Linked DNA regions of Homo sapiens: region 1 is linked to region 2. Evidence: fine-mapped expression QTL. A gene starts in region 2. The other region holds a variant in brackets. All regions are shown on one strand. Distances are from middle to middle.

The links. PIP is the estimated chance that this variant, and not a neighbour inherited with it, causes the effect. A credible set is the group of variants that fine-mapping cannot tell apart.
Region 1: its variant is the best candidate, but not a certain one, in a credible set for the expression of PITPNM3 in nasal epithelium (TOPMed, PIP 0.66).

The regions. Positions count from the first base shown.
Region 1 is chr17:6,464,936-6,467,731 of GRCh38, forward strand. All of the region lies in intron 14 of PITPNM3 (PITPNM family member 3), which reads right to left. Among named protein-coding and RNA genes, the nearest start is that of PIMREG, 22 kb to the left of the region's middle. The variant G/A (reference allele first, on the strand shown) is at 1,139.
Region 2 is chr17:6,555,384-6,558,179 of GRCh38, forward strand. PITPNM3 (PITPNM family member 3) reads right to left here and starts at 1,172. Exons shown (of 20, transcript NM_031220.4): 1 at 1,002-1,172. The coding sequence starts at 1,023. RefSeq lists an enhancer at 1-83.

The DNA of each region.
Region 1 (2,796 bases), 90 kb before region 2:
GAGAAAAACAGACCGTGAGTCCCCCAAACGCTGTCTTCAAGGTGCACAGGGCTTCCTGCCATTGTACGTTTTCTGCTTTCGTGTTTTTTGTTTGATTGATTGTTTGTTTGTTTTGTTTTTTGTTTTTTGTTTTTGAGAAGGAGTTTTGCTCTTGTTGCCCAGGCTGGAGTGCAATGGCGCAATCTCGGCTCACCGCAACCTCCCGGGTTCAAGCAATTCTCCTGCCTCAGCCTCCTGCGTAGCTGGGATTACAGGCATGCGCCTCCACACCTGGCTAATGTCATATTTTTAGTAGAGATGGGGTTTCTCCGTGTTGATCAGGCTGGTCTCGAACTCCCGACCTCAGGTGATCTGCCTACCTCGGACTCCCAAAGTGCTGGGATTATAGGCATGAGCCACCGTGCCTGGCCCGTTCTCTGTTTTGACTCTGCTCGGCCCTGAGGGGACAACTGGCCTCACAGCCTGTGCTTATCTTCCAGATCCCCGGGCTGGAAACTGCCTGGTCACTTTTGGTTCTTTCTTCTACATCACAGCTCACATCCAACAGTATTTACTATCTGTCTTTTTTTTTAAGATAAAATTTCAAATGCACAAGCATAGAGAGAGAGAAGAGTGTAACAAAGCCTCGTGTTCCCAGCACCTGCTCCACCACTTAGCAACAAACTCGTGGCCATCCTGGTTTCGTTCTTCCCTTGCCCAATTCCCCAGCCTCGGCCCCAGCCCCACCGGGATTATCCTGGAGCAATCCTGGACGCTGCGTCATTTTATCTGTGACTGTCTCAACCTCCCTATTTTTCTTCATTTATCAATGAACTGGTTTCAGTTCATTCTGCAGCCTGTGTTGGCCCTGACCAGCCCCCACTCCCAGCCTGGCCTCCAAGACCCCAGTCTCTCCATCTAGTGACCACTCCTTTACCGCACTGGCCACATCTTCATCTCTCGCACAGCCACATCGCCTGGATGCTGCTAACAGCTCCCTAATGGAGCTCCTTCCTCAAAGGCAGTCCCTGCAACAGATCCTCTGTCTCTATAAAGCACAGCTCTACTAACACCCTCCCGGGCTCCCCACTGCCCTCTGCGTAGAGTCCGGAACCTGAGCTTAGCTTTCCAAGGCTTGCCTGAACGACCTCTTCAGTCT[G/A]TCTCCTGCTGCTCCCCATCCACACCTTCTGGTCCTTTCTGCCAGGCTCTGCAGCAGCCTCCAGGCCTTTGCTCACACCGCTGTCCCGCCCCCCACACTGGCTCTAGGTGCCATCCCTGGCCCTGGCCCTCTTCCCCCACATTCCAGCCCATTCGCTATGACTAGACTCAGCGCCATCATCGCCAAGAAACACTCCTCGGACTCCTCAAAGACAGGTTCTCAACCTCCTTTCAATTCCCATGCATTTTAATTCAATCCAACAAATATCTGCAGACACCTCATCTGCATGGGGTCCCTGAGATAAACTAGTCGTGGGCCCTGCCCTGGAGACACTCAGCCAAGTAGGGAACGCAGGCCCCCTTACAGGTGCACTGTCAGGGGAGAGGGAGCAGCTGGTTCATGAATATAAGCACCTGAAAAGATCCGGCATCCCGAGTCATTAGAGAAATGCAATCAAAACCACAATGAAATACCCCGTCACACCCACCGGGATGACTAGAATCAAACAGACAGATAATAACAGGGGTTGCTGAAGATGCGGAGAAATCAGAATCCTCATACATTGCAGTGGGAATGTGAAATGGTACAGTCACTGTGGAAAACAGTCTGGCAGTTCCCTATATGATTAACCATAGAGTTAACATTTGATACAGAAATTGCACTTCTAGGCATCTACCCGAGAGAAATGAAAACACAGGAGAAATGAAAAACACAAAAACTTATACATGGACGTTCATAGCAGCATTATTCATAGTAGCCGAAAGGTGAAAACACCAGCCTGGCCAACATGGCGAAACTCCATCTCTACTAAAAATACAAAAAATAAAATAAAATAAAATAATTAGCCGGGCATGGTGGTGAACACCTGTAATCCCAGCTACTTGGGAGGCTGAGGTAGAAGAATCACTTGAACCAGGGAGGGGAGGTTACAGTGAGTTGAGATTGCACCACTGCACTCCAGCCTGGGCGACAGAACAAGACTCCGTCTCAAAACAAAAAAAAAAAACCAAAAAAAAAAAACAGGTGAAAACAACCCAAAAAATGTCCATCAGGTAGTGAATGGATAAGCAAAACGTAGCATCTCCATACAACGGAATATTATTCAGCCTCAGAAAGGAATTTCTGACACAGCGACCAGTTGGATGAACCTTGAAGACAGTGCGCTAAGTGCAAGAAGCCAGACACAAATGGTCACATATTACATCATTTCATCGAAATGAAATGTCCAGAATAGGCAAATCTGCAGGCACAGAAAGTCGATTACTGATTGCCTGGGGCAAGTGAGGGAGTGTCAGCTAAAGGGTACAGAGCTTCTTTTTGGAGGTTATGAAAAAGCTCTAAAACTGACCATGGTAATGGTTGCACACATCTGTGAATATACTAAAATCCACTGAATTGTACTATCTAAATGGGTAAATTATAGAATATGTGGATTTTATCTCAATAAATATGTTTACCAAAAAAGAGTTGGTTCATGAAGGATTGATCTCCTTCTACCTTTTAGGACTGTTCTTGGGGTCCATGTCTGGTCTTTTCACCAGACTGGAGATGCCTACCATAGCAATGGTTGTGTCTGTACAACCCTGTGCTCCACTCTCTAGCAGAATGACTGAGACAGAGTAGGCACTGATGATCGTTTGTTGAGTGAATAAATAAAT
Region 2 (2,796 bases):
CACTGTCGCGCCCGGTCCTGGGGGACGGCATGGCACCAGCCAACGTCACGGGTTGGGTGTGAGTTCATGGTAGATTCTCACACGCCAGCCTCACAAGAGGCACTGCCGAGACCAGGCTTGCTGCCGCCTACTGTATGGCCGGCCCTGTGGGCACAGCTGTCCTCCACCCGCCTCCCAAGGCACCATCGGGCCCAGAATGTGCCCGATGAGTCACGGGCCTGGGTCTCCCCAGCATGGGCGCAGCAGGGGGGCTGAGTCCGCCTGAGCCCCGGTGCCCAGCTCAGGGTCTGGCACAGAGCAGATGCTAGTGAATGAACGTCGGGCTGGATGAATGAACGAATGACTAATGCCCGCTCCCTCAAACCACAGGCTACACCGTCTGAGCCTGGGGGAGGGCAGAGCCCACGGGACCCCAGAAGAGGCCTCCGCAGCTGAGGCTTTGCGTCCCAGGGTCGATGGGGGAGGGGGCGGGGCGGCCAGCAGCCGGCGCGGCACGGGGCTCCCCTCCTTCCCGAGAAGGAATCTGGGTCTCTGGACTGAGCTGGTGACGGGGGCTGGGGCGGGGGGTTGTGGCGTCCTGGATGGAGAGAGCTGCAGGAGCAGGGGGCGCGTCCCGGTTTGCGTTGGGGTGTGGGACGAAGCGGCGGCCGCGGGACATCCCCTTCGGTGGCGAAGCCCGGGTCTGCCCGGGGCCTCCGCGGGGTGCAGAGGGCTCCCAACGGCGGGACTGGCCCGGGGCGCCGCAGACCTGGCCCTTTCCGGCGGGGCCGTGGAGAAGGGGACGCGGTGTCCCCCGAGGTGACCGGGGGCGCAGGAAGGACGGGGGGCGCGCGGAGCCCCCTCTCCACGCGCGGGAGGTCCAGCCCCGCTACCGCCCCCTACGCCCTCCCGGGACCTCCGCCCACCTGCGCGAGGGGTTCACCTGGGCCGGCGGCCCCTCCTCTAGACGCGCGAGTCCCTCCCCCGGGCCCCGGCCCTGCCCTCCCCGCGCCCGCCCTCACCTGCACGGCCCGCCTTGGCCATGTCCCGGGCGGCGGGCTCCGGCGGCGCTACGCGCGCTCCTCGCGCTTCCCGGGCCCGGCCCCGACCGCCTCCGGCCCCGAACGGACTCCGAGCGCCGCGCCCGCGCCCCCGCCCCGCTCGCCTCGGCTGCCGCCACCGCAGCCGCCGCCGCCTCGCCGCTCCCTCCCGCTCCCTTAAAGGCGCCGAGCGGCGGCCGCGCCCCCCCCCCACCCCACCCCCCGCGCCGCCGGGGAGGGACTGACGAAGGAAGGCGCCCAACGCCGCCCCCGCGGGCCCGCACCCCCGCCCCGGGCCGTGGCCGCCGCGCTCCAGCCCGCTCCGCTCCGGCCCGCGCGGCCACCGCAGCGCGCGAGGGGCGGCAGCCCAGGGGCTCAGAGACGCGGAGACAGCCCGAGACACTGCGGGCCAGAGACGGGGCCCTGGACTGGGAGAGGGGCGCACAGACTATTAGACAGCGCTGGAGAGAGACGCTCCTAGGGCCAGAACGCCGAGGTGGAGGGAGAGAGAGAGAAATTCAGAGGAGACCAGAGACCCAGAGCCCGGCTCCGGCTCCGGGAGAGACGGACAGAGGGAGCGGAGAGAGGAAGGAGGACAGGGATCCAAGGGAGGCCCCCACGAAGTCAAGAGGAAAGTCGCTCTGGGATCAGAGACAAGAGAGGGACCCCCTCCATCAGCCCCCGCTCCAGGGGTTCTGGATCATTTATGGCGTCTGACCTAACCTCAAAAGAGAAAGGATTCCCGTGATTTTAACCCTCAAGGGATAAGTAAAACACTTGCACATCCACCTGGGGTTCTAGGCTGGAGCAGGCTTTGTGGACCCCAGCGGCCTGGTGGTGAGCAGTACCCGCCTTCCACTTCCTAAATCGGGATGCAGAGATTCTAGTGGACAGGCCTTGTGGTCCGGGGAGATATGGGTTATGACTTCTGTTTAGGGGCAGCAGGGATCCACAGTCCAGCCCCAAAAGAGAGCAGGAGATGGCCAATTGTATTTGGCGGTGCCTGAGAGGTAACAACCCTCCACTGAGAGGGTGCCCTGCCTCCCCCAGGAATTGGTAAGGCTGAAGCCCAGTTACCATCTGTAGAGCCAGGCACCCAACCCACCCTGTCCCACTCCACTTAACAGGGAAAAGGTCAACTGGAGAATTCCATCCATGGTCCAGGCTCCAGGGTCCTGCAAGCTCCTCTATGGAAACAGGGCACACATGGGGTTAGATGGGGGCTCTCAGTCCAGTGCCTTCTCTGGGGCTTTGACTCCATTCACAAGATTCCTGCTAAGCAGTCCTCCAGCTCCTGGTTGGTTACCTCCAAGGACAGGAAGCTCAGTATCTTAAGTGAGAGTTCTTCCTTTTATTAATTTTTTTTTTTTTTTTTTGGCTAGTGCTGGCCTTAAGAATGTTCTTACTCGTTTGAGCTGAAATCTACAACCCGCATGTCCCATCCATGAGTTCTGCTCTGCCTTCCGACACCTCACCCAACAAAACCAGGGCTTCCCAAGGCCTTCTACCCAAACTCCCTAGTATGGATTCACCCAGGGAGAACAACCATCCACGTTTGCCAGAGCTCACCTCCCAGGAAACCCATGAGTCCCAAGAGCTCTGGATCCCAGAGCCAGATGACAGCACCAACTCCAACAGATGTAGAATTTCAGAAGCTCTGGGCTCCTGAATCCAACGCTGTTCACCAGCACCTGCCATTGGTCACCAGCTGGGAGAGCAGGAATGGACCCTGCAGCCTTTCCCCACTATGAGAATGGGACTGGGGATGAGAATAACA